4 separate regions of the Homo sapiens genome follow, and all the other regions are reported to be linked to region 1. The links are microRNA targets in miRTarBase. Many come from high-throughput screens and were not tested one by one. Region 1 holds a microRNA gene; each other region holds the end of a gene's coding sequence.
Evidence for each region. Region 1 holds the annotated microRNA hsa-miR-181b-5p (AACAUUCAUUGCUGUCGGUGGGU, at 1,901-1,923, shown strand). A microRNA usually pairs through its seed, bases 2 to 8, with sites in the 3' UTR of a target mRNA and lowers its output. Matches are read on the target gene's strand: a 7mer-m8 pairs with bases 2 to 8, a 7mer-A1 pairs with bases 2 to 7 and ends in A, and an 8mer does both.

Region 2: the mRNA of TMEM94 is a reported target of hsa-miR-181b-5p. Seed matches in the 3' UTR shown: 7mer-m8 at 6,324-6,330, 8mer at 6,161-6,168 and 8mer at 5,695-5,702.
Region 3: the mRNA of DDHD1 is a reported target of hsa-miR-181b-5p. The part of its 3' UTR that is shown has no 7-base or 8-base seed match.
Region 4: miRTarBase lists ZXDC as a target of hsa-miR-181b-5p. The part of its 3' UTR that is shown has no 7-base or 8-base seed match.

What each region holds. Positions count from the first base shown.
Region 1 is chr1:198,853,730-198,860,847 of GRCh38, reverse strand. MIR181B1 (microRNA 181b-1) reads left to right here and starts at 1,866; the gene lies at 1,866-1,975. All of the region lies in intron 2 of MIR181A1HG (MIR181A1 host gene), which reads left to right. MIR181A1 (microRNA 181a-1) reads left to right here and starts at 1,695; the gene lies at 1,695-1,804.
Region 2 is chr17:75,498,628-75,505,745 of GRCh38, reverse strand. TMEM94 (transmembrane protein 94) reads right to left here. Exons shown (of 32, transcript NM_014738.6): 30 at 7,024-7,117; 31 at 6,664-6,834; 32 at 5,294-6,484. The coding sequence ends at 6,412. It overlaps CASKIN2 (CASK interacting protein 2), which reads left to right. Exons shown (of 20, transcript NM_020753.5): 10 at 95-189; 11 at 673-934; 12 at 1,053-1,174; 13 at 1,266-1,326; 14 at 1,440-1,531; 15 at 1,784-1,894; 16 at 1,986-2,087; 17 at 2,219-2,357; 18 at 2,492-3,967; 19 at 4,056-4,278; 20 at 4,576-5,485. The coding sequence ends at 4,666. MIR6785 (microRNA 6785) reads right to left here; the gene lies at 7,118. Among named protein-coding and RNA genes, the nearest start is that of MIR6785, 3.6 kb to the right of the region's middle. RefSeq lists an enhancer at 1,047-1,186.
Region 3 is chr14:53,040,806-53,047,923 of GRCh38, reverse strand. DDHD1 (DDHD domain containing 1) reads left to right here. Exons shown (of 13, transcript NM_001160148.2): 13 at 975-7,118. The coding sequence ends at 1,156. Among named protein-coding and RNA genes, the nearest start is that of FERMT2, 93 kb to the right of the region's middle.
Region 4 is chr3:126,431,802-126,438,919 of GRCh38, reverse strand. ZXDC (ZXD family zinc finger C) reads left to right here. Exons shown (of 10, transcript NM_025112.5): 10 at 459-1,319. The coding sequence ends at 545. It overlaps CFAP100 (cilia and flagella associated protein 100), which reads right to left. Exons shown (of 17, transcript NM_182628.3): 14 at 5,716-5,851; 15 at 4,539-4,744; 16 at 3,268-3,361; 17 at 2,364-2,629. The coding sequence ends at 2,516. It overlaps LOC124906280, which reads left to right and starts at 4,738. Exons shown (of 1, transcript XM_047449418.1): 1 at 4,738-6,124. The coding sequence starts at 5,177. The coding sequence ends at 5,722.

The sequences.
Region 1 (7,118 bases):
TTTATTCTAAGAATGTAACAACTTTAGGATTAAGTTAATTGTATTCTTCCAAAGACTTCTAGGAGAATATTTTGGAAAACAAAAGATAACATAGTTATGCCTTTTAATTATTTGTAACTGACCTAGAGCTTTGCTTACTGGTAGGCCAAATGCATTTTGTGTTAAGGGAAAATACAGAGCATGGAGTCTTTTATCACAACATCCCTATTATACAAACGTTAGCAGATGTAGCAAGAGATGAATAGGCATGATTGAAAACAGTTGTATATTGACCTGACACTAATACCACAATAGGCAGGCAACAGAACAGGAGTGATATGCTTTCAGTCGTAATTGATAATGCAAACAAATGAATCCTCAGTCTCATGATAATATTCTTTCCAGCAGCAACACAGAAATGCCTACTGATAAAGCATTCTTCTAGGGTTTTATTCTGTGGGAGAAATTTGCTTCTTTCAAAAGAATTAAACAATGCAAAATTCAGATACATCACTGTTTCATATTCTGTGCCTATTTGTCACTTTAAAATTTACTTCCAGTTGATCTCTAGTCCCTGTTTCTCTCAAAAAAAATCTGTTGAAGTTTTCATGTAAATAGTTTGTCTAAAAGGTTAAACAATTATTGGCTTTAAAATAATTCTAAGTGACTGAAATGTAAGAATGTGTAAAAATTTGGGATACATATTTCACTAACATTTCGAGAGTAATTGCCTTGACTTGAATAGACCATTATCACCTTCAAAGTAGCATTCCAAATTATTGTGGGTTGTCCCTCCTACAGATAATTACTCTATAACCATATTAGATGCAACTTAAATGTGTGAAATAATGACTTTCTATTCTGGTTTAGATACATCCAAGGTGACTTTTGTTTTAATTGATGGTAGAAAATTATTGAAAATGGCTCTAAAAATAAATTCAGTAGAGTTCATAATAATTTTAAAATAAGCATTAATGATAAAACAGTCTTAGAAAATAAGACTATGAAAAGAATCCCTCACCCATCTACCCATAAAGAGATGTTAGATGTTAGATGTTATTTAAAATAATAGGAAATGAACGGTTTTGTAGCATACATAGATTGTATTTACCTTTCACTGTATTCATGAACTCTTTGTGCCATAAACTAAGAAAAATGTATTGAGCTGGTTTCTTCACTTATAATTTGTTCAGCATTTTCTAAATAAGATTGTTCTTAGGAAGTTATACTAATTTTAAAACCTTATTTTAGAATAAAATATAGTAAATATATAATGTAAATATAAATGATATCATCAATGCCAATTTGAGGAAATCTAAGGTAATTCTGTTTAATTTCTGTATAAGCTATATACATAATGCTTGCTTACTATAAGCGTAACAATATTTAAATTATAAGATATTGTTTGGATTTTATACCACAAAGTACTTTGAATAACAAATTGTCCCTGTCTTTAACAGTGAGATAATTCCATCTCTGGAACTAGCCCAATATCGGCCATGTTTTTGCTTAATGAAACCGATCCTTTTCTCTCATACAATGTGATGTGGAGGTTTGCCAAACTCTTTGTTGGAAGAATCATGCTTCTTATTTGTCTTCTTTTGTAGTCTTTTGAAATGGCATAAAAATGCATAAAATATATGACTAAAGGTACTGTTGTTTCTGTCTCCCATCCCCTTCAGATACTTACAGATACTGTAAAGTGAGTAGAATTCTGAGTTTTGAGGTTGCTTCAGTGAACATTCAACGCTGTCGGTGAGTTTGGAATTAAAATCAAAACCATCGACCGTTGATTGTACCCTATGGCTAACCATCATCTACTCCATGGTGCTCAGAATTCGCTGAAGACAGGAAACCAAAGGTGGACACACCAGGACTTTCTCTTCCCTGTGCAGAGATTATTTTTTAAAAGGTCACAATCAACATTCATTGCTGTCGGTGGGTTGAACTGTGTGGACAAGCTCACTGAACAATGAATGCAACTGTGGCCCCGCTTTTTGCTGTCACAATCAACAGATATTCCATCTTTGAAAGATGTGTTCAAAATAGTACTATTGTTCTTTAAGTTTTCCAATTCGTCAGCATCTTCTGGTTTATTTATTCAATTTATATCATGTGATGAGATTTCAATGAAAAAGACTCTGGTTTAAACAAGAATAATGCTTCTCTATCTTTTGTATGCTATAAACAGAGCATGTTTTAGAAAAGGCAAAACTATTTTGTCCATCAAACGTACAGTATCATCATCTAGGTTAGCTCACCTTCCTACTGTTGTAGTGTGAGTGAAAAAAAGACATAAAGTAGGACCTCAGCACCCATGCCATTGACAATAACACACTTACAAATATGTGTTCTTTACAACTTTTGTTAGATGTTCTGGTCAAAGTGGGATAGAAACACCAGATAATTTTAGCTTTCTGCTTCTCTGGGTGAGGATTTGCTCATATAATTCTGCCTCTTGCTATGTAACATGCTAAATACGAAGAAAATAATATATACATAACTATATAACTATCAGAACACTCATGACAGTCATATAGTAGATTGATTTTCCCAATTCAATTTCCACTTTAAAACTTTACCCACTTTCTATGTGCATGAACTGCGTGGTTAGACTTACAGTCATGGCCCATTAATTGCCTCATGTTTACTCATCTGACTTTGCAAGTAAAAGCCTATGCATATCATGGTTTTTCTTAAGTGGTTTGCCTCTGCATTTTTATATAGGACATCTGTCATTAAATTTGATCACAGCAGTTTTAAGTTTACCATTTGTAATGATAATAATTATATAGCAAAATAAAATGCTTTCTCAAGTGTCTATGTTTGGAGTACCTGGATGGCTTCAATGTTCATTTTTTTTTAATGGTCAAATAAATTATCCTTTCTTTTCCTTGATCTTTTAAATCCCATTTGCCTTTAACTCCCATTACAGAAACCCATTGCTGGGACCCGGCTCTTGACCTCATCATAACCTTAAAATATTTTACCACATTCGATATCTAATATCCCACTCTGTCTATCACTTCTTACCATTCTAGTTTCTCATTCTCTTATCTCCAAGGCAACTGTCCTTTCAATATCAGTGTTGCTGAAAAATAAAATCACATCATCATATGGACACATTAATACACATACTCAGGGGCCTCCAAGTGCCTCAGTCCCTCAACTCTGACCCAGCATTTCTTCTACTCCACTCCCTCATGTTTAGCCTAAATGTTTACCTCTTTCCTCAACTGCTCCTTTCCACGATTCCACTCTCAACAGATGAACTGACTTCTGTTTTTCATTGAGAAGCTTGAGTCCATGTGATTATTCCCTCCACTTCCTTGTTTATAGCCTATGAATGCGTAGGATTCTGCCCTGAGTTGTCTCACGTGAGCCTCCTGCCTTGCTTGGGACATCTCTTCCCCTGTGATATCCCCCTCCTCTCTCACCATCTGGCTCCATTTCACATGTAACAAGGTTCAGTTTTCTCTCTTCTCAAATAGAAAACAAAAGAAATTTGAGAAAAACTTCTCTATACTTGCTTTATCCTCAAGTTACTTACCCCACTTCTTTTCTTCTTTTTAAAAGCTAAGATTTTAGAAATAGTACATAGTAGCCTGCAGCACTGTCTATATTTGTTTACTTCCCATTTCACCTCAACTATATGTAATTTGGCATCTTCTACCATTTCTCTCTCCCACTTGTGCATAACATCATTCTAATGACACTGCTTTTCCCCAAATCACCAGTGAGCTCCATATTGCCAAATACAAATCAAACTTTTCTGCCAGTTGTCCTACTCGAACTCCCCTTGATGCCTGACACAGCTGACCACTTCTTCCTAAACTCCAGTCCCCATTCACTTTTGTGATCCTACTCTCATTTGGATTTCTCTCTTTATTACAGTGATGTCCTATTTATTTATTTATTTTTAAGAAGCTCTTCATCTGCTTGAACTCCCAATGCCAGTATCCTTCTGAGACCCATTCTTAACTTTATGGCTTTTTTTCTCTTCTCTTGTCTCACAATCTTTGAAGGAATCTCAGGCACGTGAATGATGTTTACATCTGCTCAGATGCTGCAGATACCCAAGTCTTTATCTCCAGCTTACACATCCCAAAGCTACATATCTGTCTTCTGCTCTTCTCACAGACCAAAGCCCATCCATGACTACAGATAACGTATCATCTTTTTCCCAAGGGATAACACTCTTGATCTACTTGGAAACCAAAGCCATAAATCTCAATTCATTTCATGTTCCTGGACCTTGCTTCCTCTCCTTTTCTAAACATACAATCGCACAGTCCTGAAGATGTTCACTTTTTATCTTGCTAATATTTCAATTATTCTGTATACTTCTACTGAACTTTAGTCCAGAAACGCACACCTCTTACTTGGACTATTCCAATGGTCTCCTAACTCCCACCATCAGCCATCCATCTGTTCAATATTTTCTTCACAGTATTTTAAAAAGTGATTTTAAAAATGTAATCATATTGTGAAACCGTTTAATCCACTTGGAATAAAATGTTTAATAGATGGATCGTTCTGGCGGGAAAAGCATTGTGAATATTAGCTAAATGAGAAAAAGATAATATCTGGAACTTCGTACAAGTTCTCAAGCTTAATTTCAGTATATTAATGAATTAAATGTAATTTCTGAAAATTTTCTAAAATAAACGTAGTTGAAAATTTAATATCCTTGAAATGATGAAGAACATTTTCAATTTTAACACAAACGAGGCAAAAAGAAAAGACAAGCATGACTTTGACTACATTGAACTTCAAACTATAACGTGTCAAAAATAACCATATAATGAAAAGGCAGATAGCCAAATGAAAATGAATATGAACAATAAGAAAGAAAAAAGATTAATACACTTAATATATGACATTTTTAATATACAAAAAGGAGTAAGAAAAAATTAACAACTAAAGAGACAAATGAACAGTGGACATGAACAGAGCGGTCACAGATGTAAAGCAAATGAGTGAGACCTACATGATGTAAAATTCTGCTTCACTTATGAAAATTCAAATTAAAACCATGAGATGTAATATTTCTTTAGTAAAGCTAACTGATGAAGAAAATTTAGTGATGGTGACATGAATGTTCTCATGCTATACTGGATTGTCTTTGGTTTCTGCTGAAACTTCTGGGCTTGATTTTTCCATTTCCATTACTTTATTTTTTGAACATGGAAACACACCCTTCCAGCTATGGCAAATTAGATCAGAAGTACACACCTGTGCCAAAGGGACTCAATCCATCCATTTGACTGAAACTTTTATATTTTCATTCTTATGAATTTGAATTAAGATAAACATAAATCCTTCAGGAGTAGAAGGTGTGTACAAAATGTATAATTTCATGAAGCTTTGGAATAGATTAACATTTTTCTTTGTTTATATATAAAAAAAGTAAATAAAAGATGGAAGTTGGTTAGTGAAAAGCAGCTACAAGAAATAGACATGAGATTTTTGCAGTTCCCTGAGAGACGGATGAAAAATCTTTAGTCCAAAAAGCTCCAGGTCCAGAAACCATTTTCCCAGCCATCTTTGCTCTGCTTTTTTTTTTTTTTTTTTTTTGATGGCTGTTTTCAGTGTCTATAATAATTTTAATGGCTTAAAATAAGTCCTATTTTATTTAGCTAAGGATGGTTTCTGTTCATTGCCTTCAGAACTATACAATGCTCATGAGAGTATGATCTGATTTAAATGTTATGGAAATAATTTTATCAATAATTTAACAATGCTTGTAAACTTTTATCCAATAATTGTGTTTTTAGAATTCTCATTTACCTATGTATTTATTTTTAATAGACTAATACTAATTATATATGTTTATGGGATACAATGTGATTTTTTTGTTTTAGTTTTTGTTTTATGTTTTTTGTTTTTTGTTTTGAGACTGAGTTTCGCTCTTGTCTCCCAGGCTGGAGTGCAACGGTGCAATCTCAGCCCACTGCAACTTCCACCTCCCAGATTCAAGTGATTCTTCTGCCTCAGCCTCCCAAGTAGCTGAGATTACAGGCACGTGCCACCACACCTGGCTAATTTTTTGTATTTTTAGTAGAGACAAGGTTTCGCCGCGTTGGCCAGGTTGGTCTTGAACTCCACAATGTGATATTTTGATCTACAAACATATTGTAGAAAAATTACATCAAAGTAATTAACATATCTAACACCTCAAGAATTTATCATTTTTTGATGGTGAGAATGTTAACAATCTGTTCTTTTTGGCAATTTTGAAATATACAACACATTATTATTAACTGTGGTCTCCATGCGATACGATAGGATCACTAAAACTTATTCCTGTAGTCTAAGTAAAGCTTTGTAAACTTTAATAAACATCTCTCCTATCACTATTCCTCTCCCATTCTCCCAACCTCCAGTAACCACATTTTTATTCTGTTTCTATGAAATTAAATTGTTTAGATTCCACATGTGTATAAGATCATAAGTATTTATCTTTCTGTGCCTCCCTTATTTCAGTTAGCATAATGTCCCCCAGTTTCACATAGGTTGTCAGGAATAGCAGAATTTCCTTCCTTTTTAAGGATGAATAATTTTCCATTGTTTATATATTCCACATTTATTTTAATCCATTCGTCTATTGAACACTTAAGTTGCTGCCATATCTTAGTTATTGGGAATAAAGTTGGAGTGAACATGAGATTGTCGATGTCTGTTTGATGTACCAATTTTCAATTCCTTCAGATATATACCCAAAACTGAGATTGCTGGATCATACGGTAATTCTCTTTTTAGTATTTTGAGGAACCTCTCTACTATTTTCCAAAATGGCTATACTAATTATTTACATTCCCCTCAACAGTATACAAGGGCTCTCTTTTTCTCCACATCCTCACCAACACTTCTCATTTGTTTTTTTGACAATGGTCATTCTAACAGGTGTGACGTGATACCTTAATGTAGTTTAAACTTGCATTTACCTTATGATAAGAGGTGTTGAGGCCGGGTGCAATGGCTCACACCTGTAATCCCAGCACTTTGGGAGGCCAAGGCGGGCAGATCATGAAGTCAAGAGATCGTGACCATCCTGGCCAACATGGTGAAACCCTGTCTTTACTAAAAATACAAAAATTAGATGGGCATGGTGGCACATGCCTGTAGTCCCAGTTACT
Region 2 (7,118 bases), not on the chromosome of region 1:
GACGTCCCTGGGGGAGGGTTGTCAAGGGCATGAGGGGTGGGAAGATGCCCTAAGGACCCTTAGATGACACCTGTCCCCCACCCCGTTTTCTTAGAGGCCTCAGGGATCCTGAAGGTCCGAGCGCTCAAGGATTTCTGGAACCTCCACGATCCCACTGCTCTCAATGTCCGGGCAGGGGATGTCATCACGGTGAGGGACCCCAAGCAGGCATTCCTTTGCAAATACAAATGATTGCTGTTACTTATTTGGGCACCTGCTATGTTACCACGTTCTGCTCTGAGGTCTCTATATGCACCCTCATTTAATTCTTCTTAAAGCCAGGGAAGGCAGTGCTGTTAGCATTTCTTCTTTACAGATGACAAAATTGAGAATTAAACAAAATAAAATCAAGAGAAATTCAAGTGACTTGCCCAAGGTCACACAGCTAGCAAGTAGTGGAGCTGTGATTTGACCACGGGCTGCCACTGGGGCTCGCCCTGGAGGCACAGGGGAGATTGAGCTGGCTGCTGGCAGCAGGGGCGGAACTTGGGCCAGTGTGGGCATCAGAGGCCAGCTCCTTAGGGGTAGGGAAAGAGCTGGACCAGGGTTGCCGGACCGCAGCTGCAGGGACAACCGTTTGCCACTTGCCTGGTGCTGGGAGTGACCGTCCCCGCCCCCCACCCCTGGCCGCAGGTGCTAGAACAGCATCCCGACGGCCGCTGGAAGGGCCACATCCACGAGAGCCAGAGGGGCACAGACCGCATAGGCTACTTCCCCCCGGGCATTGTCGAGGTGGTCAGCAAGCGGGTGGGCATCCCTGCAGCCCGCCTCCCCTCCGCACCCACCCCCCTGCGCCCAGGCTTCTCCCGGACACCGCAGCCTCCTGCCGAAGAACCCCCGCACCCTCTTACCTACAGCCAGCTTCCTCGGGTGGGCCTCAGCCCAGACAGCCCAGGTACATCCTCCCAGGGGGCAGTGCTGGGCACTGTGTGGGCGTGTGGCCTGGGCAAGCTGCCAGACAGCTGTCAGAGCGACACTTGGGACTCTGACCCCTTGGCTTCTGCCCCCCACAGCAGGTGACAGGAATAGTGTGGGCAGTGAGGGCAGCGTGGGCAGCATCCGCAGTGCCGGCAGCGGGCAGAGCTCTGAGGGCACTAATGGCCATGGCCCTGGCCTCCTGATTGAGAACGCCCAGGTAGGATGATGGGGTCACGGACCAGGTCAGGGCTCACTCCCCACTGCCAGTTCCCCAAATGCTGAGTTGGCTCCTGCCCTGTCTCCTCCAGCCACTGCCCTCTGCTGGAGAGGACCAGGTGCTGCCAGGACTCCACCCGCCGTCCCTGGCAGGTAGGAAGGGTCAGGGGACCTGGGTTGGCTAGGAGAGGTGCAAGTAAGGAGGCCGAGGGTGGGCACCCCTTCCTCCTGCCACCTTTCCATTCCATTTTTCTCTCTCCTTGAAGACAACCTGAGCCACCGCCCTCTGGCCAACTGCCGCTCTGGGGAGCAGATCTTCACCCAGGACGTGCGGCCAGAACAGCTGCTGGAGGGGAAGGTGTGACCTCCACGGGGTGCACCGTGGGCCTCGGGGGGGAAGGTGTGACCTCCACGGGGTGCACCGTGGGCCTCGGGGGGGAAGGTGTGACCTCCACGGGGTGCACTGTGGGCCTCGGGGTGGGTAGGGCAGGGTAGAGGCAAGAGCCTCTGTATGGACTGAAGCCCCGCTCAGGCAGGTCCTGAGCCCCTGGTGGGGGCTAGGGCCTTGGTCCAGCTCCTGCTAATTCTGCCCCCTTCCCCCACCCCGCAGGACGCGCAGGCCATTCATAACTGGCTAAGCGAGTTCCAGCTGGAGGGCTACACTGCCCACTTTCTGCAGGCCGGCTATGATGTGCCTACCATCAGCCGCATGACACCTGAGGTGGGTGCTGCAGCCGGGAAGCAGCACCCAGCGGGCGGGGGAGGGCCCAGCAGGCGGGGGAGGGGCCTGATGGCCAGACTTTGTGTGGCAGGACCTGACGGCCATCGGGGTGACCAAGCCTGGGCACAGGAAGAAGATCGCCTCAGAGATCGCTCAGCTCAGCATCGCCGAGTGGCTGCCCAGCTACATCCCAGTGAGCCATCAAGGGTGGCTGGGGAGTGGGGCACGTGCTGTCACCCTCAGCTGTGGCTTTGCGGTGCCTTTTCTCCTCTGGCTGGGGGCGGAGGCTGGCTGGGAGTTGTTCTGAGGACGGTGCTCTTCCAGACGGACCTGCTGGAGTGGCTGTGTGCACTGGGGCTGCCACAGTACCACAAGCAGCTGGTGAGCAGCGGCTACGACTCCATGGGGCTGGTGGCCGACCTCACCTGGGAGGAGCTGCAGGAGATTGGGGTCAACAAGCTCGGTAAGGACTGTCCTGAGGCCTGGCTGGGCCCCCACCTGCCTCCGGGGTCTCCAAGAGAAGACAGTATGGGGCCCAGCGGTGACCAGGACAACCCCAGCCCCAGCTAACCTTGCCACTTCCGTCCCCCATCTCAGGGCATCAGAAGAAGCTCATGCTGGGGGTGAAGCGGCTGGCGGAGCTTCGGCGGGGCCTGCTGCAGGGGGAGGCCCTCAGCGAAGGCGGGCGCCGGCTGGCCAAGGGTCCGGAGCTGATGGCCATCGAGGGACTGGAGAACGGAGAAGGCCCAGCTACAGCTGGCCCACGGCTCCTCACCTTCCAGGGCAGCGAACTAAGCCCAGAGCTACAGGCGGCCATGGCAGGGGGTGGCCCTGAACCACTCCCCCTCCCACCTGCCCGCTCTCCCAGCCAGGAGAGCATCGGGGCACGCTCACGGGGGTCTGGCCACTCACAGGAACAGCCTGCCCCACAGCCCAGCGGTGGAGATCCCAGCCCCCCCCAGGAGAGGAACCTCCCAGAGGGCACAGAGCGGCCCCCTAAGCTTTGTTCTTCACTTCCTGGCCAAGGACCCCCACCCTATGTTTTTATGTACCCCCAGGGCTCACCCTCTAGCCCGGCCCCAGGGCCACCTCCTGGCGCACCCTGGGCCTTCTCCTACTTGGCCGGGCCCCCTGCCACTCCCCCAGACCCGCCTCGACCTAAGCGCCGGTCCCACAGCCTAAGCCGCCCTGGCCCCACAGAGGGGGATGCTGAGGGGGAGGCCGAAGGGCCAGTGGGCAGCACCCTAGGCAGTTATGCTACCCTTACCCGGCGGCCAGGACGCAGTGCCCTTGTCCGGACCAGTCCTAGTGTGACCCCAACCCCAGCTCGGGGGACTCCTCGCAGCCAGTCCTTTGCCCTGCGGGCCCGGCGCAAAGGCCCCCCGCCCCCGCCCCCCAAGCGCCTCAGCTCCGTCTCTGGCCCCAGCCCGGAGCCACCTCCACTAGATGAGAGCCCAGGGCCCAAGGAAGGGGCCACAGGGCCCCGAAGGCGAACACTGAGTGAACCTGCTGGCCCCTCAGAGCCCCCTGGCCCACCTGCCCCGGCTGGGCCCGCGTCAGACACGGAGGAGGAGGAGCCAGGCCCTGAGGGGACGCCCCCATCTCGGGGCAGCTCTGGGGAAGGGCTGCCGTTTGCAGAGGAAGGGAACCTGACCATCAAACAGCGCCCGAAGCCCGCTGGCCCCCCGCCCCGAGAGACACCCGTGCCCCCCGGCCTCGATTTCAACCTCACGGAATCAGACACTGTTAAGCGGAGGCCCAAGTGCCGGGAGAGAGAGCCACTGCAGACCGCACTGCTGGCCTTCGGAGTGGCCAGTGCCACGCCTGGCCCCGCTGCCCCACTGCCTTCCCCAACTCCTGGCGAGTCTCCTCCAGCTTCTAGCCTTCCCCAGCCCGAGCCCAGCAGCCTTCCAGCCCAAGGAGTTCCAACCCCCCTTGCTCCCAGCCCCGCCATGCAGCCTCCAGTGCCGCCCTGCCCAGGGCCAGGTCTGGAAAGCTCAGCAGCTAGTCGGTGGAATGGGGAGACAGAACCCCCGGCCGCCCCTGCTGCCCTCCTCAAGGTGCCCGGAGCAGGTAAGAGGGGAGGCCTGTGGGAGAGTCACTGCTGGCAGGGTTGTGTCTGACCCAGCCAAGTCCCAAGCCAACCTTTTTGTCTCTGCAGGAACAGCCCCCAAGCCTGTGTCGGTGGCCTGCACCCAGCTGGCATTTTCTGGCCCTAAGCTAGCGCCCCGGCTCGGCCCCCGCCCAGTGCCTCCTCCACGGCCTGAGAGCACTGGGACTGTGGGCCCAGGCCAGGCCCAGCAGAGACTGGAGCAGACCAGCTCGTCCCTGGCAGCTGCACTGAGAGCCGCAGAGAAGAGCATTGGCACCAAGGAGCAAGAGGGGTGAGGGGGGCCGGATGGGGAGGGAGAGAAGGCTGCAGAGAAACAGTGCTCCCTGCATCCTCTGCCCAGGGATCATGGGGATGTTGGAGGGGGACATTGCAGGCACTAACGGGATAAGAGGCCAGGTGTTGAAATCACCTAGATCAGGGAATCCTGGTGGCTACCATTTAAGAGGCACAGGAGCCTGGCCGGTCCCTTGCCTCCCTGAGCCTCTGGGAGCTATGACAGCTCCCTGCCCCAGGGCCAGTGGGGTGCAGGCCACTGGCTGATCTGACCGCATCCTTCCCCTTGCTGCAGCACCCCCAGCGCCTCCACCAAGCACATTCTGGATGACATCAGCACCATGTTCGACGCCCTGGCTGACCAGCTGGACGCCATGCTGGACTGAGCCCTCCAGCAGTGCCCACTGTGACCTGCCGAAGTCCACTGCCTTTGCCCCAGCACAGAAGAGGCCCCTGCCACCCTAGGGACGGGCCAAGGGCTGGTCAGGCTGAAGTGCCCCTCCTAGCAGGGCCCCTTCCCACTCAGCCCGCGGCTGTGGGCACCACAGCTCTTGTGGGGCAGCCCACCTTAGAACCTGACTAGCGAGGGACCTCCGCTGCATCTCAGCAAAGCCCCTCCCAGGGTTTGATCGATTGAGCAGGACAGCCCTGCTCCTGGACAGGGACCCTGGTAAGAGCTCTCTCCTCAGGGAGGAAGTAGGGGTGGGGCTTTGGGGGTGCTTTCTCTGTACCCCCCAGCCCATGTCCCAAGTTGTGCCAAGGGAATGCCTCTTGCCACCCACCATCCTGCCCAGGCCCTGAGAGGCTGGAGGAGGCGTGTGTCTGGCCGGGCCCCCTCTCCGTAGGTGTACAGAGGACATGTAAATACACAGCGGTGGTGCCCAGGCAGCTCCTGCCCCCGCCTTCCCTCACTGAGGCAGGGCTAGCAGGGGTGGGAGGCAGTGGGGTTAACAGATCCCACAAGTCCTAACTTTTCAATTGTAAATGTTATTTTCTAAGCAGAGAGAAATGCATATATTTTAAATGGAATTTATTCTATCAACTGCCTGAGAGGACACAATGGGGGAGGGGCTTCGGACCACAGCAGGAGCCCCGACTGCCCACCTGAGGGCAGGGAGAGCCTGACCCCATTGGCCCAGGCCCTGGCTCTGTAACCATTAACCTCTTCCCCCAACTAACACCAATGAAAACACCATTCCACGTGACTGGGCTGTGTGTTTGCCTCTGTGACATGGGGACCCCTGACCCTAGGGGTCTCGCCTGAGCCAGACCTGAGGGACCCACCCGCGTAGATGGAGGAAGGTTTAGGCCTCCCTTTGCCAGCCACCGCCGGGGGTGGGCAGACCCTGGAGTGGCCTTACAGACCAGCCACAGGTATTTCTTAGCAATTGACACATTTTAATACAAACCAGTCTACATTCATTCCTAAAAGGCTCATTTCCAGTAAAAAATATACACCAGTAGAAACTTCTCCCAGAACTGGGGCAGAGGCTGAGGAGACCTGGGCCAGATTCCCCAAGACTGACAGGCAGCCAGCTTGAGCCAGGCACAGGAAGAGGCTCCAGGGCGAAGCGGGGGCCCTGCTCCATCTTCAGGTTCAGGCGGGAGACTCCCCCACAGAGGGAGGGAGGGGAGGCACTCGGGGCCACATCCAGGCAAGCACCACCCCCCTGCCCTCCACGGCAGCCTTGGGAGTTGGACGCGTCGGCCAAGGCTGCTGCTGTTGCTCCTCCAAAGAAGGTTGGCTTCAAGGCCGTGTCCAGGGACCCACGAGCAGAGGCACTGGGGGGCAAGGGATCTCCAAGGGGGCAAGGGATCCCTAAAGGGGGTAGCTCACAGGTGAGGGGGTTTAGGGCCCCTCTAGGGAGCGCCTGAGGCCATACATTCAAGAGTGTCCCTGGTGAGGCCCAGGGAAGAGCCAGGACTGGCCAAGGGCCCAGGCCGTCAGCTCCTCCACAGTGAGCCCCAGGGCTCAGGAAGACAGCGGGGTCTGACACGGGGAGCTGGGTTTCCAGTGCCACGGGTGCAGGAGCAAACCTGGAAACATTCATGATACAAACTCCCCTGTTCAGAAATGGGTCTGGCTTTAGCCCCAGGGACGGGGGCAACTACAGCCACCACAGCCAGTGGCTCAGAAGGGAGAGTTCATGCCCAGCTTAGTTTCAAACTGCAGCTTCTGTCGCTTCTGGTAGCGGACTCGGACCCTGGTGGGGCAGGAGATTAAAGTACAGGTTGGCAAAGATCCTTAGACCAGGGGCCGGGGCAGGACACCAGAGGAGGAGGGAGGGATGGGCAGCGGAAAGGTGGGGGAGTGTCGCCAAGGGAGTAACAGGTTTAGGGAACATGCCTGAGCCCAGAGGGAGGCGCCCTGCTGACAGCTCACCGAATCTCATGTAGCTTCACGATCTCATTGGTCACCACCACAAGGACCAGGGACAGGCAGCCCAGGAGCCATGTCAGCAGGGGCACGTCCTCCAGGCCAAAGTGGACGTGGCTGTCCCTGTGTGTCCACAGCTGCAGGTCCACAGCCGTCTGGACCACCTGACCCAGCAGCCTGCAGGAGGTGGCGGCCCCGTGTGAACCCGACACTGCTTGCTTCCTTCCCTGCTCTTCCCAGTACAACAGTTAGCTCAGGCAGGGTACAGTTAAACCACTGGCCCCGGTCCCGCCCTCCGATCCTAGCCCTGCAGAAGGCCCTCTCCTCCCCAGCCCACACTCCGCCCTCCATCCTAGCAATACTCACACCACAGGCACTGTCACGGCCCACCAGAGGTTGGTCAAGGGGCTCTTTCTCCACAGGGGCTTGGTGCGATGCACATGGGTGATGGAAATGAAGAC
Region 3 (7,118 bases), not on the chromosome of region 1:
TTTGAGCATTTTTGTTTTGTTTGTAACATAGACCCTTCAGAACACTGTACGGCTCATTAACAGTTTAAAGGAGTTCCTAAGGATCAAAATGTCATATTCTTAAGTGTTTATCTCTAATAATTTATTAAATGAGCTCACTGGAATTATTTTAGAGCCTTGATTTGTTAAGGTGATTTTTCTCTAACAGGTAATCGCAAGGACTTTCTGTGGGCTTTAGAAAATACTTGATTGAATTCACTGAATTGTTTGTGGACAGCACTGTTATAAGCAAAGTCCTTCCTCCCAAGAATCACCACTGCTCCTCCCTGTTTAACTTTCCCAGCCACCCTGCATGTTCTTCTTTTGTTGAACAAACACTTAATGAGCGTTTGTATGTCCCAGGCACATGTTAGACCCTGCTGACTGGATGGACACTAGGGTTTATGGGGGTTGCCTGTGAGACATTCAGCCTAGTAGAGAAGAAAACATTCTAGGATTGTACACAGATGGTTATCTTCTAACATATCCCTCACACAACTAGTGGATATATAGGGCCTCCCTAAGGAGGAGATTGAATGATCTCTTGCACTCCCACGGGCATCATTGCATGCAAGCCTGGCCCGTAAATCTTCAAGAGGGGTGTTTTCCTTATTTTATAGATTAGGCACAAGGATTAAATGGTAATGCCAAGTTTTGAAAGCAATTTTTTTAACTCTGAAAATATTCTGTGATATGCCAAGTGATTTTTTTTTGTCTTCCTTTATTATTTTATATTAACTTTAGCATACAAAGGAAAGAACTTTACAAATAGAATCCTGTACTACTGAGGCTCTTTTGAGTGTTTTTCTCTTAAGATGATAATGGAAAGTCACTTCTTAAAAAAGTGACAGAATCACTTCTATTTAGCTAAATTTTTACTCTCAACTCCAGTAAGTCTATATAGAACATATTTTATTATAATCTGTATTCATTTGTTTAACTTCTTTTCTTTTTAGTGGAGTTGGATCACAGGATTGATTTTGAACTCAGAGAAGGCCTTGTGGAGAGCCGCTATTGGTCAGCTGTCACGTCGCATACTGCCTATTGGTCATCCTTGGATGTTGCCCTTTTTCTTTTAACCTTCATGTATAAACATGAGCACGATGATGATGCAAAACCCAATTTAGATCCAATCTGAACTCTCTTGAAGGACATGAATGGCCTAAAACTGATTTTTTTTTTTTCCGTTAAAATGTGTGTGTCAAGATACGGAGATTTCAGGGTTAAAGTATATTTCAGTTTTCTTTAGGGCAACATATATTTGAATTTAAAAGCACTTTATTTAAAAAAAAAAGAAGTTTTCAGTTCTGAAGAAGTCATTTACAGTTTGCATCATTTTAATTATGAGTCTGACAAAACCTTCTCCAGAGAATCAAGCAAGACCTGGATGTGAAGAAGGTTTGGGTAAACTGCATGTAAAGGCTACAAATCACAATCTGATTCCTCCCAAATATAAAGGCATATGGAACATAATGTATTAACCAAAGTATGTTATAAATCAAAAATGGTCAAGGTTCAGCATATTCTATATGAAGATCACAAGGTGGTATCGTTTTAGATTTCTATGAAGGCTTTCATTTGTACATCCCTTTGAAAAAATATAACAGATTTAAAATGTTTTGAATTTAACTTGTTTAGAAAAACTAATGCTTAAAACAATATTTGAACTACTGTATTTATAATTTATTACCTCTAATTGCTTTATTTCAGTGTATGAGACATTACTGTTTTAATGTTTGCTTTGAACATAATTTAAGAACCAGATTTATTTTCTATAGTGATAAACCCTTTTTTCTCAGAACTCCATCTTTGTACTCTTCAGATGAATATATAGACACTGTGGCATACATTTTTTTTCATTAAAAACTTATGGCTTCATACAACACTAGTTCAATTTTTTAAATAAACTTTTTATTATGTTACATGTACTTCAGAGAAAGCTAAAGTTTCTCTAAACTTGACACGGAGTACTCCATAATGGGTACATTTCATTAGCTTTATTAGAAAACTAGTAAATGCTTTTGAATAGGTAGTATGACAGCTATTTTAAATGTATAAACATTTGTGTGCCAAACAACATATATGAAGGGATGTGATGCCACTAACTAGTGCACATTGTTTCTCAATGTGCCATTGAGACACAAGGCACAGTAAGTCAGGATTCTGAGGCATTGGAAGGGTTTTCTTCAGCTGTAATTGTTTCCACAGTGCTTTTCATCTGAGGGGCTCAAAGTTTAAGAGTGCATTCAATAACCCATGTACTAGCTTCTTGAGGTAAGTAAATAAATCTTGTTCTCATGTTACATGTTAATACACCAAGGCACCAAAACATTTAAAGTGCCATGAATTAGATTACATCAGAAATCAGAAAAGCTTGGATTGAGCTAGTCACCGTGGTTCACGCCTGTAATCCCAACACTTCGGGAGGCCAAGATGGGAGGATCTCTTGAGCCCAGGATTTCAAGACCAGCTTGGGCAACATAGTGAGACCCTCTTCTCTGCAAAAACTGACAAAAATTAGCCACTTGTAGTGGTGTACACCTGTAGTCCCAGCTACTCAAGAGGCTGAGGTGGGAGGATCACCCGAGCCCAGAAGTTCAAAGCTGCAGTGAGCTCTGATCACACCAATGCACTCCAGCCTGGGTGACAGAGCCAGACCCTGTCTCTAAAAAACAAAAAAGAAAAGCTTGGGTTGAAGCCAGGCCATATTCTTTTATATGCTGTTCAATGACTTGATTCACATGTGACCTTTTAGTAGTTTGCAAACAATAATAACAGAAGTTGCAATTCATAATTCAGAGAAATGACCATGAAGCCGGTGTTTCCCTGCTTGATTTCTATGTTCTTGGATTCTCACACAAAAGAGGAGTTACCTAGAGGGGATCAGTAGCCATCCCTGTTGCACACAACCCTCACTTCTGAGTGGTTTCCACTAGGTTCCACTTAAGGTGCTGTCTTTTCTTAACTTGCAAGGAATTGCTTAGCTTCCCAATAATCATTGTCAAACTGGGAGCAAAGTTGGTCAGCTGTATCTCTCACCTCCTCCTTTCTTCATAAGATAGTAGAATCTGTGGCTTACTTGTAGGTTTTACTTAGTGCTTCAGTACTGTTGGCTGTTTTGGCCTTTTGCTGAATTTGCACAACAACATAAAGCACTTCTTTTTAATGTTTAAAAAAAATTCCAAGGCTCCATGACCAAGTATGTGACTCACTAAGAAACCCTTGCTATAAAAGGCTTTTGATGAAATCTTAGCAAAGCTAAATTATCTCTAACTTAGAGATTCCTATGAACTCAGGTCATTTTCATAGCCTGTTTATTTTGTAGGTCTAATTTAGTTCTCAGGAAAATTAAACTCATGCTATATGACTGTATCGTTAAAGGTACTTGAGCGTATGTTGCTGTAGGTGGTATGACACTCAAATGCATAAGAACTTGAAGGGATTTATTCTTAACCACTAGAATATGAAGAGCCCTTTTTACCTGAGAAGAGTGAAATTATGTCAGACCTTTTAATTTGATATCACTGAGTAAAAGGTATGTTCCTATAGCCATAGGAATATGTCTGCTTCCTTTTTTTCATGTTGAGAAAACAGTCAAATTTAACCATTTGGAGTTTATTTGAATTCTTGGAAAGAGCAATATTCAAAACCTTTTCAAAAATAAGATATTCTGGACTACTGGATGGATGTTTTGTTTTCAGTTCATTTTTCATCAGTAGAGATGGTGATTTCGGTTTTGTAGTATCCTTGTTTCTATGTCTGTGCATGTTAACATTGGATGTATTTGTATATACTTAATTAATATACAGACTGTGTGTCATTCTGGCTTGATTAGAAGCTAAGTCAGTTACTGAGTAACATTTTGCAACTTTATTCCAGCAAGTACTAAATCGGCCAAAAAAAGTTTTGTTTTTGATACCATTAAAATTTTATTCTCTATTTTGTGTACATGCTATGATGATTCTCCCAAGTACTGATTAGATCACTGAACTTTAGTTAGCTTCCCAAGAATTATTAACCGTTAGAATAAGACTTAGATTAAATCTTGCTTTATTTTTACTTTAAAATTAGTCTTGCTAAGGCCTTATGTTAGTTCATACTTTCTTTTCAACAGTAATCTTGTTTATAATCCAGTGTTTCTGTGTTTTAGGACATAATTTAAAAATATACTGGATTTTGGCCAGGTGTGGCAGCTCATGCCTGTAATCCCAGCACTTTGGGAGGCCAAGCAGGGAAGATTACTTGAGCCCAAGAGTTGAAAACCAACCTGGACAACATGGTGAAACCCAGACTCTACAAAAAATGCAAAGATTAGCTGGGTGTGTTGGCAGACGCCTGTGGTCCCAGCTACTCAGGAGGCTGAGGTCGGTAGGACTGCATGATTCCGGGAGGTCAAGGCTTCAGTGAGCCAAGATTGCACCACTGCACTCCACCTTGGGTGACAGAGCTGGACACTGTATCCAAAAAAAAAAAGTATGTATTTACACACACACACACACACACACACACACACTGGATGTTCTAATAACTGCTCTTTTGTATGTGAAGCAAGCCTTAGGAATCTTACGTTTTACTTCTTTCTGTTAAACGGCATCTGTTATCTTTTGAAGTACTCACACTGAACATGCTTCATGCTGAATACTCACGCTAAAGGCCTCAGACATGTAAACATTCATCCTTAGTCTCTTTTTTCTCTGTTTTCTCATTGGGAGCTGAAGCATCCTAGTCTGCAGAAAATTTAACACACCATATTCCAGCTTTGCATCACCTAGACAGTAGACAAAAGGAAAAGAAATTGTCAGTACCGTATCACAGCTAGTGCCTCTGTTCATTCCAGTGATAGTACATGAGCCCCTTCCAGTGGAGTCAGATCAAGCCAAAAGATTTTCCTGTAAAGTCTGTAGTAGAAGACAAATTTCTTTTTGATCCATTAGATTGGTATTTCTATCTTCTCAGCTAATTAATGAGTAAGGCATGTGGACAATCGAGAAAACTAATTTGAGTGTATGTATTAAAATTGCTCTTCTAAAAACACGTAAAATATTAAAGATCAAGGCAGAGCAAAAAAGAACGTAGCAATCATATACTAGAAAAAGAAACTAAGTTTTGCTAAACTATGTTTGGGTTAGTTGACCTCTGTAGCTATTCTAAAGTTTTCTATCCCTTATCTGTATTCCGCTGTCATTCCTGTGCCTCAAGCCTCTGCCAGGAATCTGATGGTACTCTGGCTGAACTTAAAACATAAGAATCTCAAAGGTCTCATTTAGTAAATGTTAGTGCTAAGTTGGTGACAGCCTGGGTTATATGCTTTCTCTTTCAGTCTTCAGTAGATGCTTGTGATAGTTTTCAAAGAACTGTAAAATTTCCGGGTCTGTACAGATTTTTAGAGATCATTTAATCCAACCCTGTTACAGTATCATGTCAGCATTTAAATAGCAGTAAAGGTCATGAAAAGTGAAGTGAAAGGCAGCAAACTCCATGAAAAACTAAATACAGTGACAACTGAGGGAAGTGGTAAAGTAAAAAAATATTAATGATGGAATTTTAAAGCTGGAAGGGGCATAGAGACCATTCTTTTCTCAATAATATTCTGCAAATATTAACAGGTGTCATGTCAGAAACTAAGTTTAGGAATTGACAAATTCAAAAATCTCCCTTACAGCAGGGCTTTGAGAGCCTTTGCTACACTAAATGCTCTGTGAATCTATCTGGTGCTGCGTGGGGGCCTCCAAATTTATTTAACCATATTTTTTAATTTGGCATTTACCTAGAGAAATGCTATCACATTTAATTCCTTCGTTTTACAGTTTCACCTCCTCATGTGATTCCTTCATTTTGTAAGTGACCGATTCCACCCTATACAATCACATGGCCAATGAATGACAGTCAGAATTAGAACCTAGTCCCCTGATTCCCAACCATGTCTTATACCAGACTGTTTCCCCTAATCGATAGGAAACTACTCCTAAAGGGCAGAAACTGCCTCTCTTTGTTTTTGTCCCCCAACCTCCCCTCCACACATACACCTCTGTAATCTGATGCTTTAAGCTCAGATTAAAGCATCAGCAAGCTTTAATCTGACACATGGCCGTAGGCTTGAGTTAGCAGTTGGTCCCTTCTTTCTTCCAGACTCTCATAAGAGTACCCTATCAGGTCTGGACAGACTTCCGTTTATGCCTCAGATTCAAAATACCCAGGAAAAAGAAGAAGAAATACAAAACAACAAAAAGAAAATCAAGAAAAAAATAAGATATCCAGGAAATATTTTGTTAGTTTTCTATTCTGGTGACAAATGCAAACTTAAGGAAACAAGTTGCACAGTGTTAACTAATGTTTAACATTCCTTTCCATAGTGTTTATGTGGGCCTTTTATCAATTCATGACAAATAGGTCACCTCCAAAACTGTTCCAACATAGGTTAACTCAGAAATTTAAAATTTAAGTACTATCCTTTTTGGAGACTATGAGAAGAGTTTTTACTATTGTGTTTTGTTTTGTTTTTTGGTGTGTGTGTGTATGTATGTGCATTCCCCAAAAATAGTCCATTGGCAGATTGTTAGGGTGAACTTTTCCTCTGCCTTTGTGTTTGTATAAGGGCGGGTGCATGCTTAGTATTGTCTGCTACCTTATGGTTTTTCATTTATATGTAACATGGTACAACTTGCTTCCTCCCCACCCAACAGTTGTCAGGATATGTTGGGGAATATTCTTTAGGAAGATTACATCTGGTCTTCTGTTGGAGTAAGATGAAAAACAAGTATGTTAACACTTGACCTTTACTGCTTTCTCCTGGAAGACATTGAATATCTAGGAGCGTCACTCATACCTTCCCTTGACTGTACCCACACCCACTGCGGTCCCTGCTTGATCTCTCAAACTTTTTGTTTCCCTTTGAGCTTCATGACAAAAAATTATAACCATTTTCTGGTTCTAAGGCTGCCATAATCCCAACTTTGCCAGTAAGAAGATGGAGAATTTTTGCTCATAGGGACATTTCTCAGAAGCAGCTGGCACCATAACTCTCCTGAGACCCTTGTTTCCTTTCTTTCAGCTCCTATGACTTCTTATGTTCACTCTCTCTAACACTACTAAATGTTGTC
Region 4 (7,118 bases), not on the chromosome of region 1:
GCCCGGAGTCAAATGGTGCAACAGCAGGAACACTTCTTGTAGCAGGAGGAGACAGGCTAGATGGGGCCTCCATAGCCCTGGGCCACATCCTGGTCAGCTGTGAGGGCACAGGCGGACGGACACCTAATACCTGGGAGAGTGCTCACCGCGTGAGAAGTGCGGAGAAAGGGTTGCAGAAGTAAAGATGATTTTGTTTCTGTAAAAAGGCATATGGGTATATGAACATGTGAGGGTATACGTCAATGTGCAGACAGAACAATCTTGAAAAATTTACAGTACAGTATTGAGTTCATTTTTCATCAAAGAACATGTGTTTAGAATAAGGGGAGCCTGTAGTTTTGAGTAAGAGAAGTCAGGTATCTCACCACGGGCCTGGTCAGTGTCCTGCTGTGTGGAGCCACAGGATCCCTCTGCCTCCCCTCCCTCCTCCCTCTTCATGACAATGCTTGGTTTTGCAGGAGGTGCTCCCCTCATCTGGAGGCCCTGCTGGACCGGAGGCCACCCAGTTCCCAGGAAGCACTATCAACCTGCAGGATCTGCAGTGACGGCAGCCTCGGCCTGGGCAGGCCCAAGGCCACGGTCTAGGACACACCTTCCCTGAGACTCATGACATGAGCCTGGGGAGACCTCATTTGGTTTCCGTTCAGAAGACCAGCGTAGCCCTTTTGAGACTTTTGGGTACATTTATCAAAAATGTTTTCCTTTTGTTTTACCAGGAATGAGTTCGGGCTATACTCTTTGAAACTGCCTTTGTGAGCAAAGTGCTTTGGCAAGGCAAGGGTCTCCCTCAGCAGGGCTAGGTGCACTACAGCCTCTTTCCCCGTGTCCCGTTGGATCTGAGCTGTGTAGCACTTGTTGCATTACAAAGAAAAAGACTTCTGCAGGAAATAGGGTAGAGAACAGGCTGTCTAGTCAGATGCAGCTTGATCTGTGGCAAAACCAAGTGTGGTCTTTCAGCTTCAGTGTGTTAGCATCCCAGCACCTGGGATGGGGTTTGTGGGCAAGTTGATTTTGCCACACTGTAGGGCCCAGGTGGTCCCATTGCCACCGTGAAGCCAAATTCTAGCCCAAGTCTGGTAGAGCAGTCGGGCAGCTAGTTTTCGGGGGAGGATGATGTGGTGGGACAGAGGACCTCAGTGGCCTATTACGGAGCCCTCTTCCCAGACTAAATTCATAGCCGAGAGCTCGGGGGGATGGTAGAGTTAAAATTTAAAATAATTTTCTAAATTCTGTATTTGGATATTAGTGTTTAAGTGGTAATTTGGCAACAGTTTATAAAGTGATGTTCTGAATACCATAAATTATGTGTAGGACTGTGATGGCGCGTGTATGTTTTATTATTGAGGTTGATGTGCACATAATACGTCAGTGTATATTTTTACCGAGTGAGGTCTGTCTTGTAAAAGGAGACAAGGTGATCACCTTGCCCATGTTTATTTGTAAGTCTGTCAACTTAGCAATGACACAGGGTCACTCCTAAATGACTTTTTTTTTTTTTTTTGCCTTGTGCCTTTTGAAGTATGTGTTCATTCAGAGGCTGTTTTGATTCTCAGACTGAATCATTCAAACTCTGCCCTGTGTTTGTTTCTTGAATTTGGGGGTGACATCAAGTTTGAGTGAGTCCTCCCTCTGTCTTGTCTCACTCTGAGGTGCTGTCCCCAGGTGCTGTTCCACGTGGAAGAATCCACACCTCGTCGACAAATGGGTCTTCTCCACAGACCGGCGCTCTGTCACCAACTAAAGGCGAGGGGAGAACTTGCCCACCTGGCAGGCTCTTTAGCCCCAAGGTGGCCCGGAGTCCTCCTCCCTCCATGGGAGGCTTTTGGCCACCATGGCGGGTGGAGCCGCACCCACCCCATCTCCATGGGGAGGAGAGTCTTCCCCCAGGAATGCCCTCTCGGCCTCTATTTTTCTCCCATGTGCCTCCCTGGGAACGTCACCGTGAAGTGACTGGGACTGGCACCCAGTGTTCTGGGCACCAAGGTTCCCTGCCGGTGATGGGCCTAACTCCTAGTGCAAATGAATGAAAGTTTTCTTATAGTCATGCACCGAAGGTTTTTCACCTTGGCTTAATTCAAGTAGCTACATATATGGCATTCAGCCCATTGTTTCTCCTTTAGTTGGTAGTGCTGGCCCTGCCATATACCTAGCTGCCTGCTTGTATTTCTTTGGTCTTTGCACAGAGGCTGATCTCACACTACACTCAGCGTGGAATTAGCTTTTGTCTCGCAGAGCAGCTGTTTTAGATGGGAACCAAGGTGTCATGCTCTTGCCCTCAAGCATCTGCTTAGGGTTAAATGATGAACCGGCGGGGTGCTGAGATTTGGCAATGGTGGCTGCATCCTTAAGCAGGCCTTCAAGACTCCAGAGAGACATGAATTTATTCAGGTGAGGAAGGGAGCACACAGGAGACAGAGAGGACTCAGTTGGGCCACTCGAGACCCAGCCCAGTCTCTGCTTCCTCTGCCAACATCTTTGCTAAGCCTTCAGCCAGAACAGCTATGGTCTGCGAAGATTAAGTAAAGAAAAATAGCAGCTCCTCCTCCTCCTTGTCCATCAGTGTGTGCTCAGACTGTTGTTTGATCCTGTGGGCTGGGGGTCGTGAGCGGCATACCAGTGTCCTGCCTCTCTGCAGGGGAAACAAGCCCAGTGAGCCTTGCTGCCTAGTGAGCCGTATGCCCATATACCCCTGCCCCTGGTGCAGGGAGAGGCCCAGCAGCTCCAGTCACCTCCAGGCCACTCTGGTCAGCCCTGCAGGCTGAGGGCTGGAGTTAACTCTGAAATAACTGGGGGTGTGAGTCTGCCTGGCATTTATCAAGCCTGGTCTCTGGAGCACCACCTATTAGATGTGGGGGCAGAGGGACCTGCTTCCTGTTGCCAGGGTCAGAAGGCAGGAAGGGTGGGGGCCTTGGGACACAGCAGTAGGGGGACCCCAGTGACGGGCAGTGAGCAGGGCTTGGGGTCTGGCCGGAGTGTGGGTAGGGTGGTGGGACCCTGCTCCTGAGCAGAGTGTACCTGGCTGGGGTGGGTGGGCATGGCTGAACCAGGCTCAGCCTGGCATGGGCCATGGGCTGGCAGCCTGGGGAAGAGCCCCCTGCAGGAAGCAGGTCCTGGGAGAGGCCTTGCTCCGAAGGCAGCCTGTCTCCCTCAGAGCCTCATTGAATGCCTTCAGAGTGGTAGCATCAGGGGCTTGGGCTGCAGGACCTCAGCTGCCATGCTGTCTTGGGACCCCCTCCAGCAGAGACCCCCCAAGGCGACCCTGCCTACCTTCTTCTTGATCTCAGCCTGGGCGCGCGCCCGGGCCCGCTGCAGATGCTCCTCCTGTAGGATCTTTTGCATCTGGAGCTTCTCTTCTCGAAGTCTGGGTGGCAAGAAATGACATTGAAAACTGGGGGGACCTGGAAGGTGTTGTGTAATCTCCACACGGAGTCCCCAGGCCAGGCCGTGTCCTCCCTCAAGAAAACTCCCAGCTCCTCTTCACCTCTTTTGCCAGGTCAAGTTCTCAATACCTATCCACAGCCAAAGCACCGCTGCTTTTGGCCAAGGTGGCCTAGGCCCAGAGGAGGACAACCAGGGCCCTGCTGCTCCGAGGCCCTGGCTCTGGCCTCCTGCAAGGGCTGAATCTAAGGTTCATCCAGCAGACCCCTCCCAGAGGCACATTTCTCTGAATCTACACCCATGGCCTGATCTGTGCACCTGTGGCCTCCCTTGCCACCATGAAGGCCAGCATCCCCCTGGGGCGAGAGTCCTGTCTCCTTCCTATATATACTCTCAGTCATCAAAGCCTGGTCTAGTGCCCACTCTGAGCAGGGTACCAGGGACCCAGAGGAGAAGCCCCTGTGCTTGGGGGGACGGATGGATGTTTGCAGATTGCGCTGTCTCAGAGCCCTGCACGGGGTGGATGAACCGGGCTGCCCACAGGCCAGGGAAGCCACAACCCCCATCTACCTTGGGTTCAGGCTGGTGTCCCGACAGATAGCAAGCTGCTGCCCATCTGCCCCCCTCCACTCCCCTCTGAGCTGAAACTCCCAAGGCTCTCTGAGCCTCTGCACTTTGTCTTCCGCTCCAGCAACACTGCTGTAGCCATGCCTTCTCTCCTGGGTGCTGGCAGCTGCCCTTGCCCTCAGCCTCCAGCCCCTCCAGTCCAGCCCCAGAGGGAAGAATCTAACCACACCCTACCTGGCCGTGTTTGCCCCACTGCTTAAAGCCCTCCACTGCTGTTCCATGTATTTGAGGCTGACCGTGCTAGCCACACTCTAACTAAGCTCCAGCTCTTCTATCTTCTAGACCCTGTCCCTCCCTGAGCCTCCTGGCCACATCGAGTCACTGTCGTTTGCTCTAGGAAGCTTTCCCTAACCACCCCCCACTTGACTGTGATGCCCCTCTAGATCCCCCCAAGACATGGGCTTTTGTCTCTCATAGCACAGAGCAGGAGGGGCCTGTCTCCTGGGAGTGCTTTGAGGGTGGGGCCTGTATGTGCCCTCTGCCCTCAGGGCCAGCCAGGACACAGCAGCTGGCAGGGAGAGCCTAGAGCTCACCTGATGCGCCGCTCCTTCTCCTTTGCCCTCTCGGCCTGCTCGATCTTGACCTGGGGCACGTGCTCCAGGTTCTCTAGCAGCTCATCCAGCTGGTGCTCAATGATGGTCAGCATCTGCACGGTGCCCAGGTTGGCCTCCTGCTGGGTGCCGGTGCAGTGCCGGTACACATCCAGCACCTTGCAGTTCAGGCTCTCTAGCAGCTTATCCTGTGGAGGAGGTGGCTTCCAGCAGGGTGCTGGCAGGCGGAAACCCACCCCCATGCCAGTGCCTTCAGCGGTGGCCTGCTGACCTCCCAGGGTGGGGGCCACCGCTTGGCACACAGTGGGAGCTCTGAGAACATGGGCTAAAACAGAACTTGGGGAACTGGCTTTTCTTGGCCAGAGCAGCCTATCCCCCGGGCCCCCTGGAGTCAGCCAGATCCCTGGTTCCAGCCCCTCTCCCAGCTGCCTCTGGTGAGCCAACGGGGCCCAGTCCCCTCCTCCAGGGAACCCTGCACCCTGGGCACCCCACAGGGCTATGTCTTCTCTGAGACTGTTCTGACACTTAGAAAACAGATAACAGCCCCTCCATGTGGGCTATATGAGGAGAGAGGAGCAGCAGGCAGGCAGCTCAGCCCAGCCTGGGCACAGCCAGTGCCCATGGATTCTGGCTGTATCGGGAGCGCTGTCTTGCTCATGGCTGCATCCCACACCCTTGGCCCTGTGCCTGGCACACAGCAGGCACTTGACAGTAGGAAGCCATCCCATGCCCGGGGTGGCCCCAGGCTGTCAGGTTGGGAGCGGGCTGAGCCTTTGTCTGGGTCCTGGCTTCTGCTGCTCAGAACACCACTGGCTTTCTCTTCTCTCCCAATTCTCTCACCCTCTCAGCCTGGCTTGAGGACACGCCTCTTCCCCCCCTTCAGGATCACCTTGCCAGACACAATATATGTGTTTAAGAAGCAGACACATTTGTTGAATAAAAGAATGAAGCAATGGATGAGGCGTGGGGGCAACCAAGCTGGCTGGCACAGGCATCAATACATGTGGTGGCTCCTGGAGGGAGGCAGGGCAAGGGCAGCTGCAGGGCACTCACCCGGGCCTTGTCCTCCATCTTCCCAAGGGCTGTCAGGGCTCCTCCAGTGGGTGCCCAAGGGTCCCTCCTTACCCTGGGCCTCTGGCCACCTTGATCCCCAGCCTACCTGCTGATCGCCCTTGTACTCGCCGAAGTGGAAGACTCGGGCTTTGAGCTCCAGCTCAGCTGCTGTGTCCTCCTCCTTGGTGATGGACATCATCATTGTGGTGACCCACTGCTTCAGCTGGTTGACCTCCCTGTCCCTGGAAGAGGGGAAAACCGGCAGGGCATCAGTCACTCAGCACAGCCCTGGGCACATCGCTTCTCTGAGCCTGTCTGTACAGTGCTTTGCCCCTACCAGCTGTCCTGAGGGCTGAAGGATCATGGGTGCCAAGTCTCTGCATGCCCAGGGGGTCAGAAATGCTGGTAGAATGTAGGGGAAAATGTAAAATATTTAACAATCAACATTAAAGAAAATAAACAGCTTCATTGAGGCATAATTCACAGACAATAAAATTAGCATAACCATCATAAAATATACAAGTCAGTAATTTTTTATATATTCAAGGAGTTTACACAACCATGACCATAATCTAATTTTAGAACATTTTCATCACCCTGTGCCCATTAACAGTCACTCCTCATTGTCCCCTCTATCCTTTGGTCTTAAGCCACCATGAATCTACTTTGTGTCTACCCTGAACACTTCATAAAAATGGAGTCACACAACATGTTTTCTTTTGTGACTCGCTGCTTTCACCCAGCATATTTTCAAGGTCCCTCCATGTTGCAGCATGTGTCAGCACTTCATTTCTTTTTATAGCTGAGTAATCTTCCATTGCATACGTAGGCCACACTTTGTTGATCCATTCATCCATTGATGGGCATTTGGGTTGTTTCCACCTTTTGGCTCTTGGGAATATTGCTGCTATGAACATTCATGTGCAGGTTTTTGTGAGGACATGTTTTCAATTCTCACGAATATATATCTAGGAGCAGAATTTCAACATTCACCTTTCTTTTTTCCTTTTTTTTTTTTTTTTTTTTTTGAGACGGAGTCTTGCTCAGTCGCCCAGGCTGGGTGGAGTGCAGTGTCACAATCTCGGCTCACTGCAAGCTCCGCCTCCCGGGTTCACACCATTCTCCTGCCTCAGCCTCCTGAGTAGCTGGAACTACAGGCACCCGCCACCACGCCCGGCTAATTTTTGTATTTTCAGTAGAGACGGGGTTTCACTGTGTTAGCCAGGATGGTCTCGATCTCCTGACCTTGTGATCCTCCTGCCTCAGCCTCCCAAAATGCTGGGATTACAGGTGTGAGCCACTGCGCCCGGCCTCAACATTCACCTTTCAAGTGAAATAAGAAACAGATGCACAAGGGACATGCTGCTCAGAGTTGGTCCTCAGACATCCTGGGCATCACCTGCAAGTGTGTCAGAAATGCAGAGTCTTAGGCCTTGACCCATGCCTATTGAATCAGAAACTTCATTTTAAGATCCCTGGGGGATTCAAGTGCACATAAAGTCTGAGAAG